3 separate regions of the Homo sapiens genome follow, and all the other regions are linked to region 3. The links come from fine-mapping of genetic effects on gene expression. A gene starts in region 3. Each other region holds a variant in brackets. All regions are shown on one strand. Distances are from middle to middle.

Evidence for each region. PIP is the estimated chance that this variant, and not a neighbour inherited with it, causes the effect. A credible set is the group of variants that fine-mapping cannot tell apart.
Region 1: its variant is the best candidate, but not a certain one, in a credible set for the expression of MCUB in sigmoid colon (GTEx, PIP 0.53).
Region 2: its variant is the best candidate, but not a certain one, in a credible set for the expression of MCUB in whole blood (INTERVAL, PIP 0.69).

What each region holds. Positions count from the first base shown.
Region 1 is chr4:109,630,806-109,634,805 of GRCh38, forward strand. All of the region lies in intron 1 of MCUB (mitochondrial calcium uniporter dominant negative subunit beta), which reads left to right. Among named protein-coding and RNA genes, the nearest start is that of CASP6, 71 kb to the right of the region's middle. The variant C/T (reference allele first, on the strand shown) is at 1,593.
Region 2 is chr4:109,640,128-109,644,127 of GRCh38, forward strand. The region is part of intron 1 of MCUB (mitochondrial calcium uniporter dominant negative subunit beta); the gene reads left to right. Among named protein-coding and RNA genes, the nearest start is that of CASP6, 61 kb to the right of the region's middle. The variant C/T (reference allele first, on the strand shown) is at 1,957.
Region 3 is chr4:109,557,462-109,561,758 of GRCh38, forward strand. It overlaps MCUB (mitochondrial calcium uniporter dominant negative subunit beta), which reads left to right and starts at 2,785. Exons shown (of 8, transcript NM_017918.5): 1 at 2,785-2,975. The coding sequence starts at 2,877. RefSeq lists a silencer at 2,732-3,051 and an enhancer at 3,472-3,671.

The sequences.
Region 1 (4,000 bases), 73 kb after region 3:
CCCAACATCAGGTGACCCACCCGCCTCAGCCTCCCAAAGTGCTGGGATTACAGGCGTGAGCCACTGCGCCTGGCCTGCAAAATTGTTTTTTTATTCTTGCATTAAATGTACTGCCGTTCCTGGACTTCCTATTATACAAGCTGACTCATTATTTGAAGAGTCCCTGAGCTTCACCATTTCGCAGACCTGACAACATACAGAATTCTTTTTGATTCTTTATATGATAGTTTATTCTCTTTTTCACCTTTTCTGCCTAGATACTCAATTTCTGGACAGAAGTCAGTGGCAACTCAGATGAGATCAAGCTAGTATAATTTGCCATAGAGGATAATCTTTCAGAGGAAGCAAGTTATTATATAAATAATTTCCGCTCAATTAGAAACTGAGTATGCACACAATCTGTACAGTTCTGTTTGTTGTGATGTTTAACACCACACTACACACGGGCACTTGATTTGTGGCTTCTGATGTCAACACATTTCTAGTTGATGAGCTTTACTCATCTCTCATGTTTTGTGACTCTAGGAATCTGTTTTTCTTTTCAACTATCACACCTCTTTTATTTTTCATCTCCCAACATCAGATAACTAGATAGGAATGTGAAACTCCTTCACATAGCTCTTTTTTATTCAGAAAATAAATAATAGAAATTGAGTGCCTGTGGCATATGTACTAAATATTGTGGTAAATATTAAATATATGCTTTGGACACAATACATGTTCGCAGGATTTTCCTTTAAAAAGTGCAGTGCAAAGTGCAGTAAGGAAAAAAAGAGGAAGTATAGTTTCAGTTATTAATTTATTATCCGTCAGCCCCAAATCTATAGTTCTTTGCCCTGCTTTGTGATATTGGAGTTGGACTCTGTCAACATTTCTCCTTTACCAGCTGTGCAGCTTTAGGCTCTGTCAGTGCAGGACCTGGGGAGACAATGCATGGTGGCAACAGTAGATCGGTACTGTCCTTCCAGTTCTGTTTCACCTTCCTTTATTCAGCCCAGGGGTCCTCACAGATCAACTTAAGCAGCACTCTCAGACCTTTCTCTCCCCACCTGCAGGCTGTTTCTCAGGCAGCTCCAGCCCAGTCTTCTGGCTGGTTTCCTCCCACCAAGAGGGCTGGTCTAGAGAACAGCTTGGTCCTGTTTACACTGCTGACAAACGGCAGGCCCCTTTCACAGCCCACCTCTGGCTCTTTGGCGCTGATGCTTGTGTATTTCTCATGTAGCCAATAACCACACCCTCTTTGAAGAGGTCCGAATCTCAGCCTAGATAAATGTTATTAAGGAGCACTAAGATCCAAAGAACAAAACTGAAATAATACATCCCTCCATTATTGAAATTTATTTACAGCAGAGGTCAGTGTACTTTCTCTGTGAAGGGCCAGATAGTAAATATTTTAGGTTTTCTGACCACATATGTATCTGTTTCATATTCTTCTTTTTCTTAAACAGTGTTTTGAAAAGATTAAAAAAAATCTTAGCTCATGGGCCATGGTTTGCTGAACGCTGGTTCAGAGTATGCATAAAGTAAAATCTTGCTTTTTTCAACTAGAGAAATCTAATCTAAAATAGTGAGAAGTCTGAATTTTAGACTTA[C/T]CATTTATTGTTGCATAACAAATCTCTCTAAAATTTAGTGGTTTAAGACAGCAGTAATAATTTATTGCTCTCACAGTTTATGTGGGGCAGGAATTTGGGAGCAGATTACCTAGGCGGTACCAGCTCAGTGTCTCGAATGAGATTGTGGGTGCTGGTTAAAGTGGTGATGATTTTTTAGTTTTTAAATTTTTTATCCCTTTTATGTCTTCTGTCATTGCTTTTTTTTTTTTTTTTTTAAGGTGGAGTCTCACTCTGTTGCCCAGGCTGGAGTGCAATGGCGCGATCTTGATTCACTGCAACCTCCACCTCCCGGTTCAAGTGATTCTCTTGCCTCAGCCTCCCAAGTAGCTGGGACTATAGATGCACACCACCATGCCTGGCTTATTTTTGTATTTTTAGTAGAGACAGGGTTTCGCCATGTTGGCCAGGCTGATCTCGAACTCCTGACCTCCAGTGATCCGCCTGCCTCGGCCTCCCAAAGTGCTGGGATTACAGGCATGAGCCACCACACCTGCCCTGTCATTGCCAATTTTTATATCAGCACTATCTTGATAGGTGTCAGGGTGGAATGGCCAAGTGAATGTCAAGCCCTGAGGCTGATATGCCAAAATAATGATTATGAAACTACAATATAGGTAAGAAGGTGTGAGGTTAGAAAGTAGAGATGTAAGGAGGTGACATGTGATAGAAATACATACATTGTATTATAGGAAGGGATCCAAAATGAAATGTATGACTATAAATTTATAACAGAAGCGACAGAAGTGAAGAAATACCTACTGAAAAAATAAAATTTAAACCATTCCAGTTTTCAGATGAAGTCTTTTGTTTTGCGTGTATTTGGATAGAACATAATATTTTATAATGAATTATTATTATTTTTTTTTTGAGACAAAGTCTCGGTCTGTCGCCCGGGCTGGAGTGCAGTGGCGCGATCTCGGCTCACTGTAAGCTCCGCCTCCCGGGTTCACGCCATTGTCCTGCCTCAGCCTCCTGAGTAGCTGGGACTACAGGCATGCACCACCACGCCCAGCTAATTTTTTTTGTATTTTTAGTAGAGACAAGGTTTCACAGTGTTAGCCAGGATGGTCTCGATCTCCTGACCTCATAATCTGCATGCCTCGGCCTCCCAAAGTGCTGGGATTACAGGCATGAGCCACTGCACTCAGCCTTTAATTAATTTTTAAATGAAACTATAAGTACATCACTAAATATGCCTGAAGTAGAATAAATGTAAAGCATTTTATGTGTTGATTTGCACGACTTGAATAGAGTTGCCAACTGTGCTACCCCATGTGGCTCTCAGCCTTCTATCATCTCAGACACCCAGGCATCAAAGCAAGGAAGACAACTTTGTTAGCACCATCTGGCTAGACCGCCATGTAGATTCTCTTCCTTTGAGACCGTGCTTGACAATAATTGGCTTAGATTAGGAAAAAAATTGGTATATGTTCTTATCTAAGAGACACCACCCCCACCCCCACCATCCCGCCCATGTACAGCTTTTCTTCCTAAATTATTTCTTTCTCTGGGGCTCTATTACACTTTATTTATTCTTTTTATTATCACGCTGTACTTTCATTGTATTATTCCTGTCCTAACTCTTATTATTATAAAGAAATCTCACCAAGGAGAATTTAAATCTCATTTCAGAGGTCCAGTCCAGATTTAGCTGAGAATCTTGAAGAATAACATTCATATAGAAAATGTATAGTCCATAAGTTTAATGAGTGATCATGCCATGCAGTTAGAATCCAGACAAAAAACAGAATGCTGTCAGCACCTTAGAAGTGTCTCCATGCAGGCCAGGCACGGTGGCTCATGCCTGTAATCCCAGCACTTGGGGAGGCCGAGGTGGGTGGATCATCTGAGGTCGGGAGTTCGAGACCAGCCTGACTAACATGGAGAAACCCCATCTCTACTAAAAATACAAAATTAGCTGGGCGTGGTGGCGCGTGCCTGTAATCCCAGCTACTCAGGAAGGCTGAGGCAGGAGAATCGCTTGAACCTGGGAGGCGGAGGTTGCAGTGAGCTGAGATTGCGCCACTGCACTCCAGCCTGGGCAACAAGAGCGAAACTCTGTCTCAGAAAAAAAAAAAAAAAAAAGAAGTGTCTCCATGCTCCGTTTTAGTCACTACCTAAGCCCAGCAGTGTTACCACCATTGTGACTTCCAACACTGTAGATTACTGTTGCCTCTTTTTCAAATTTATATGAATGGAATCTCATATACTCTTTTGTGTCTGTCTTTTTTGCTTAACTTTGTGAGATTCAATCATGTTGTTGCATTGTTACTGTATTCCATCTGATGAAGATGCCATTATTTATTCATTGTGTGGTAGAAGTTATTAAATTATTTTAGGCAGATAGAAAGGAAAAGGGGTCCTTGGACATTTTCATTTTTAAAGCA
Region 2 (4,000 bases), 83 kb after region 3:
CTCAAGGGCAGGGAGAATATTACAAAGTACCTTCTTAAGGGCAGGGGAATATCTCAAAGTGCATTATCGCAAGGGCGGGAGGGTGTATTGTCATAAGGTCAGTTGATCAGTTAGGGTGGGGCAAGAACAGATCACAATGGTGGAATGTCATCTTTTGTGGTTCTTCAGTTGCTTCAGGCCATCTGGATGTATATGTGCAGGTCACAGGGGATATGATGGCTTAGCTTGGGCTCAGAGGCCTGACACCAGGCATTGACTTTTCCTCTCTAGCTATGAAAGTCCTAGATGGCATCGTCTTCCAATGCAAGGCAGTATTGGAATCTGAAAATCTGTTGTTTAGTGTAGCCACCTTCATCAATGATCTTAGCTAGATCTTCTGGATAACTTGCTCCAACTTCTACATCAGTACTTGTTGCTTCACCTTGCACTTTTATGTTATAGAGATGGCCTCTGTCATTAAACCTCATATACCAACCTCTACTAGCTTTCAACTTTTTTCCTACAGTTCTCTCATTTCTCTCAGACTTTACAGAATTGAAGAGAGTTAGACCTTGCTCTGGCTTAGGCTTTGGATTAAGGGAATGTTGTGACTGGTTTGATATCCAGACCACTAACACTTATCATGTTTCCATATCAGCAATAAGGCTATTTCACTTTCTAATCATTCGTGTGTTCACTGGAGTAGCACATTTAACTTCCTTCAAGAATTTCTCTTTTGCATTCACTACCTGGTTAACTGGTACAAGAAGTTTAGCTTTCAGTCTACCTCAGCTTTTGACGTGCCTTCCTCACTAAGCTTAATTATTTCTAGATTTTGATTTAAAGTAAGAGATATGCCACTCTTCCTTTCATTTTAACACTTAGGGACCATTGTAGTCTTATTAGTTGGCCTAATATCAATATTGTCCTTAGGGAATAGGGAGGCCCCAGGAGAGGGAGATGGGAAGGGAAAGGTTGGCAGAGCAGTCAGAACACATACAGTGTTTTTTTTGTTTAGAGGAGTCTCACTCTGTCGCCCCGGCTGGCGTGATGTTGGCTCACTGCAAGCTTCGCCTCCCGGGTTCACGCCATTCTCCTGCCTCAGCCTCCTGAGTAGCTGGGACTATGGGCGCCCGCCATAACACCCGGCTACTTTTTGTATTTTTTTTTTTTTTTTTTAGTAGAGACGGGTTTTCACCATGTTAGCCAGGATGGTCTCGATCTCCTGACCTCGTGATCCGCCTGCCTCAGCCTCCCAAAGTGCTGGGATTACAGGCGTGAGTCACCGCACCCGGCCTAACACATACAATATTAATTAATTAAGTTCCCCATCCTATACGACCATGTTTCCTGGTGCCCCAAAATAATTACAATAGTAACATCAAAGATCACAGATCACCATAACAGATGTAATAGTAATGATAGTTTGAAATATTGTGAGGATTACTAAGATGTGACAGAGACAAAGTGAGCACATGCTTTAAGAAAAAATGGTGCTTATAGACTGGCTTAGAAGCAGGGTTACCACAGCCCTTCAATTTGTACAAAAGGCAGTATTTGTGAAATGTGATCAAGTGAAGCACAATAAAATGAAGTATGCCTGTATTTTCAGGCATTGTATACTGCCATTTCATTTGTCAGTTCTCTGTGTATTCAAACCTCCTGTGAAGGAACCTTCTGATTTCATATTCATTACAACAGAGGGTGTAGCAACTTAGAATTCTGTGCTTTAGAAATTCAGATGTGTTACTACCTTCATGTAGTTCCCATTTGTTTCCCAGTTTGGAATTACTACCTTTGTCACGAAAAGATCTTCAAGTACTTCTGCATTATATAAAAGTGGTGACTATAAATAGATGTATTCATTTAAATAGTTTATGTCTGTATACAAAATTCTATGGTCTAGATGCATAGCTAAAGAAATTATCTTTGGCTCAGGAAAATAGATAATTGTATTGATTTCACAAAATACTGTGA[C/T]TGCATTTTTGGAGTTGTTTTTGGATCCTGAAACATATGATTTTGAAGATCTTTAGTGGTGATAAGAATTTATCTTTTCAAGGGGATAGTTTTTGACAAGCAAATATTATGAACCAAGTCTGTTGCTTTTTCTTACCCGGGTTTCAGCTTCTGTCTTCAATCTTTTTAAAGTAAATTACATGATTTAATGATATCTGTGGAATACTACTGAGTGAGCCCTGAAACAGCAAGAATAATGGAGTTCTTGCCCATGGATATGGAAAGGGCAAATCGTAGCACCATATTATTTTCGAAAGCCTCATACTGAGATTATTGTCAGATATGGTGCTTTTGTGGCAGGGTAATTAAAGTTGTCCTTAAAAGGCTTATATTTAGAAGTAATTGTTTTTATTTATTTTTCTGTATCAGTGTGTTAGCTGTCGCTTTTATACTAAGAAATCTTAAACTGCTATCCTCTGATTTATAGTCATTAGGCAAATTATGCTAGTCCCTGCTGTTCATTATGTATCAGTATTTTTTCTTCACCCCAGGTTAAAAAGTTGTTTCCTTTTTGAATCAGGCTGCTGCATCTTTTTTATTTTCTGCTTGAGCTCAACTTCTTTTTAGGCTATATTTTCTACTTGATACTTGACATTTTCCTAATGCTTCTAGAATAGGAGGCTGGATCACAAAAAGCTGCTATTTCTACTTTAAAGAGATGAAGACTGAAATTTTTTTTTTAACTGTTCTTTTTGTCATACTCCCTGACATATTGTTTTTTGGTTAAATGATATGTAGTAGAGTTATTGATATACAGTACTCTCAGCTAGATTTTTTTTTTTTTTTTTTTTGAGTTGGAGTCTTGCACCATCACCCGGGCTGGAGTGCAATGGCGTAATTTTTTGTATTTTTAATAGAGACGGGGTTTCACTGTGTTGGCCAGGCTTGTCTCAAACTCCTGACCTGGTGATCCGCCCACCTTGGCCTCCCAAAGTGCTGGGATTACAGACGTGAGCCACCGCACCCGGCCACTCTCAGCTAGATTTTAATACGGGAAACAACTTACCATTTTTTTAAACATCCAAGAGAAAAAATATTATTCAAACTTGACTGAGTAGGTGAGACTTATTTTCTTTTATTTTTGAGATGGAGTTTCCCTGTCGCCCAGGCTGGAGTACAATGGCGCAATCTTGGCTCACGGCAACTTCTGCCTCCGGATTCAAGCAATTCTCCTGCCTCAGCCTCCTGAGTAGCTGGGATTACAGGTGTGCACTACCACACCCAGCTAATTTTTGTATTTTTAGCAAGGACGGGGTTTCAGTATGTTGGCCAGGCTGGTCTCCAACTCCTGACCTCAAGTGATCCACCTGCCTCAGCCTCCCAAAGTGCTGGGATTACAGGGATAAGCCACCATGCCTGGCCTTATTTTACTTTTTTATTTTTATTTATTTATATTTTTGAGACAGAGTTCCACTCTCGTCTCCCAGGCTGGAGTGCAATGGCGCAATCTTGGCTCACTGCAACCTCCGCCTCCCACATTCAAGTGATTCTCCTGCCTCAGCCTCCTGAGTAGGTGGGATTACAGGCATGCATCACCATGCCCAGCTAATTTTGTATTTTTAGTAGAGATGGGATTTCACCACGTTGGCCAGGGTGGTGTAGAACTCCTGACCTCAGGTGATCCGCCCACCTCAGCCTCCCAAAGTGCTGGGATTACAGGCATGAGCCACTGCACCTGATTTTATAAATAACTGATGCTTGTTTTTAAGCCATCCAGTCTGTAGTACATTGCTACGGCAGCCCTAGGAAACAAATACAAACACTAAAGCTGTAAAACATGTTGGAAAATAAACTATTTGCTCTAAGACATTTTAAACAAATTTGTGTTAAAACGAGTAAAAAAATGTTAAACAAGATTTGGGGGAGCCTCGCTGAACCTATTCTGGTTCGGAGGCTGCCCGATTAAAAAAAAATTAGGTACATTATATTCAGTGGATTCTTAGAAAATGTGAAGGTCTTTGTCATGTTCAGTAGAGGGGCAAAGATAAAAAAATTGAGGCTTTGT
Region 3 (4,297 bases):
GTTCCGGGTGGGCGTGGGCTCCGTGGCCCCGCACTCGGAGGGCGGCCGGCACCCCCGGCCCGGGCAGTGAAGGGCTTAGCACCTGGGCCAGCAGCTGCAGAGGGGGGCGTCAGGTCCCCCAGCACTGCCAGCCGGCCCGCGCCACGCTCAAATTCTCACCAGGCCTCAGCCACCTCCCCATGGGGCAGGGCTCGGATCTGCAGCCCGCCATGTGCAAGTCCCCCCGCGGTGGGCTTCTGCTAGGCCCTAGCCTCCCTGAGGGGCACCGCCCCTGCCTCAGCGGCGTCCAGTCCCATTGACTGCCCAAGGGCTGCTGAGTGCAGGCACGAGGCACGAGCGCAGGACTGGCAAGCAGCTCAGCCCGCAACCCTGGCATGGCATCCACTAGGGGAAGCCAACTGGGCTCCTGAGAGGGGTGGGGACTTGGAGAACTTTTATGTCTAGTTAGAGGATTGTAAATGCACCAATCAGCACTCTGTCTAGCTAAAGGTTTGTAAATGCACCAATCAGTGCTCTGTGTCTAGCTCAGGGTTCGTGGATGCACCAATCAGCACTCTGTATCTAGCTAATCTCCTGGGGACTTGGAGAACCTTTATGTCTAGCTAAAGGATTGTAAACACACCAATCAGCACCCTGTGTCTAGCTCAAGGTTTGTAAATGCACCAATCAGTGCTCCGTGTCTAGCTAATCTAGTGGGGACTTGGGGAACCTTTATATCCAGTTAAAGGATTGTAAATACACCAATCAGCACTCTGTATCTAGCTCAGGGATTGTAGACACATCAATCAGCACCCTGTCAAAACGGACCAATCAGCGCTCTGTAAAATGGACCAATCAGCAGGATGTGGGTGGGGCCAGATGGGGGAATAAAAGCAGGCTGCCAGAGCCAGCAGTGGCAACCTGTCTGGGTCCCGTGCCACGCTCTAGAAGCTTTGTTCTTTTGTTGTTTGCAATAAATCTTGCTGCTGCTCACTCTTTGGGTCTGCACTGCCTTTATGATCTGTAACACTCACCGTGAAGGTTTGCAGCTTCATTTCTGAGGCCAGTGAGACCCGAACCCACTGGGAGGAATGAACAACTCCGGACGCGCCACCTTAAGAGCTGTAACACTCACTGCCAAGGTCTGCAGCTTCACTCCTGAAGCCAGCGAAACCACTGAACCCACCAGGAGGAAGAAACTCCAAACATGTCCGAACATCAGAAAGAACAAACTCCGGACACGCTACCTTTAAGAACTGTAACACTCACCACCAGGGTCCGCGGCTTCATTCTTGAAGTCAGTGAGACCAAGAACCCACCAATTCAGGACACATTATCAAGATTCTTCACAAATGTTAATAGGGATTTTTATCAGTTTTAGTTGTAGTTTCCAATTTCTAAAAATGTTCAGGTAATTTTTTTACACCTTTCAGAACCTAGCTCATGAGTGTTGAATCAATGCTTTTTCATGTCAATTCTTTGTATAGGCATTCTTTTCAGTTGTATTAAACAAGAACCCTTCACAACAAAAAAACAAAAATACACGCTTCTTTCACTTGGAGCACTAGCTAATAGGAGGAAAAGATTCAGGTAAGGTAATTTACCTTCCCATATGAACTTAAAGTTTCATGTGTCACTCTCCATCTGGGGCAACTGTATTTTGAAAGACATGCTAGTTAACACAGGTGAATCAGCCTTTAATAGTGATAAAGTTTTTACTATAGTAGAAACTTGTGATTCTTTCCCTTTTCAATAAGGAAAGGAGATTACCGCCAGGAGTGATTTGCCACTTATTGCAGGTTTGCCAATTTTGATTCATTAACTGAACCCTCTTGCAGATTCAGGAGATAAAAATGCGGAGTGCCCAGTTAAATTTGAATTCAGATAAACACCAAATAATTTAGTATATCCCAGATATTTCATTTTTAAAATAATAAATGTGACCCATGCAATATTTGGGACATACTTCACTATTTGTATCTAAAATTCAAGTTTAACTGGGCATCCTATATTTTATCTAACAACCCTACTGTAATTGGTTTAGGTTGCTCTTTAATGCCTTTGGTTTGCTTTCAAAAATAAGTAGTCTCAAAACAAAGCATCCGATTTCCCAGTAGTTAGAAGAACTCAATACCGGTTCCGAAGCTTCTTCAATTAAAAACGTGCTTCAAAAGAGAAGCCAATTCTGTGGGAGATACTTTCCCAAAAAACTCGGGTTTGGGCCCCTATACCGTGAACTACAAACCTCCGCAGGGGTAGGCCCGGGCTGCCCGCCTCACACCGCACTCGCCAGCGAGCAGGGGCCCGGCACCGCAGCCCGGGGCAGAGGCCTTGGAGGTTGTGGAGGTGGGAGAGGCCTCGGCCGACCCGCTTCAATCCGTCTTCTCCAAGCTCGGTGGGGAAAACAAACTTCCTGAGCGGCCCTGCCCCCTCCAGATGCCGGACGCTGTTTTCGTCTCATCCCCGTCTGGGTTGGATGGCGAAGACGGCGCTCAGAGCACGCAGCACCGGGAATTAACAGCGAGTTTTGAAATCTAGAGCTCGCAAGGTGTGCGTCGCCTGCTGCTGTTCATTCCAGAGGGTCTTCTGCTGGAGAAGGAGGGGGCCCTCGACCTCGGGCTCCCGCTCTCGGGCTCCCGCTCTCTCGCTCTCTTTTTTTTTTTTTTTTTTGGTCGGAGGAAAGAAAACAGCCCTGCGCCCGGATGCGTAGAGAGCCGACAAGTGGAAACAGGGACACACCCTCCCGTGAGCCCGCCCAAGCTGGAGCCGCGGCGCGCTGAGCGAGCAGGCGGGGCGGGAGCGCCCACAGCTCGGAGCCACCAGGCGCTGACGAGGAGCCCGGCTGAGGGAGGATGCGCCGCTGACGCCTGCGGGAGCCGCGCGCCTGGGGCGGGAGGATGCTCCAGAGGGGCCTCTGGCCGTGGCGCACGCGGCTGCTGCCGACCCCTGGCACCTGGCGCCCAGCGCGCCCGTGGCCGCTGCCGCCTCCGCCCCAGGTAAGAGCGGGTGCCGGGCTGTGGGGGTTCGGGGTAGGCTGGTGCAAAGTTTGCGTTGGACAACTTTGGCGGGAGCAAAAGCCGAGCGGCCGAGCAGTCAACTGCGTTTTGCTGGCTGCCGGGCTCCGCGCGCCGGGCGGTCCCGACAGGTGGTGGCCGGGCGGCCGACGTGGGTCACGGAGGCCTGGGCTGAGGTCAAGACTCCGGGCCCGGGGAAGGTGAAGCCAGAGCGCTGCGGCTGGGGGTGCCTCACCCGGGCCGAGATAGGGTGCGGGGACCACCAGACTTCGGCCTGGGAGCAGCAGAATAACCTGGGAGGCAGTTTCTGGGCTGCAGCTCTCGGTCAGGAGCAAGTTTCCAAAGCCGCTGCGCCGCGGGGCCGGTTCCCTCTTGGTGATCAGTGCCCGAGCCCCTAAGGAGCCCGGAAACGATGAACGGGGCAGTGACCGTCCCGGGTGTGGACGGTCGCAGGAGAGTGAAATTTCCATCCTGAAATCTGCGAGCACCTCCCTTTCCCAGAAGGAAGAAAAACTCGCGTTTTGTTCAGACACCCGAGAGACGGGTGAATCATGAGTGTGCTGGTGAGTAACAGTTGGCCTGACACCGTTGTATTGTGGTCTGTGGAGAACCGTGGCTTGGAGGAGTAGAGAGTGGATGTGCACCAAAAAAGACTAGAAGAAGGGGAAAGCGCTGAGTTTAAGGAGGATTGCGATGGAGCCTGACAGGAGCCCGGGAGTGCAAACTCTGACCCAGATGAGGAAAGACAGCCAAAGCCTTCAGGGTGTGTGTGGTTGGGGAGGGAGCTGTTTCTGAGTTTTCGTTTGTTCCTCCCCCACACTGTTAAGATTACTTTCAGATTGTTAAAGGCTTAAAAGCCAAAAAGTAAGCAGTGTGATTCTCTTGTCACTTTCACTTCCTGTTTATTTTGTTCTTTTTTTTCCTTCCCCCCCTTTTCCTCCAGCTGTCTGAGGGCTTCAGTTTCAATTGATGCAGGGAATATTTAAGTGCATTTTTTTTTCCTTTTCATTGAGCTTGTGACCAAAGGATTAAGTGCATTCAGAAAATCAATTCCAGGAATGTTTGAAAGAGAATGAGGAAGGCCATGTTGTTACTAAATGTAAGAACAGGGGCAAACTCCTTAAAATGTAAAATGGTAGACTTATAAAGTCATTGGGGAGATGGGCTTTTTATACTTTTAAAGGTTGTACTTTTACTGTAAGTGTTGCATTGTGTAGTCAAAGAGATACCAAACATTAAAACAACCCAATACGAGGAACCCCTTTCACATGCCATTTTAAACACAGATTATTGTTTTTTGTTGT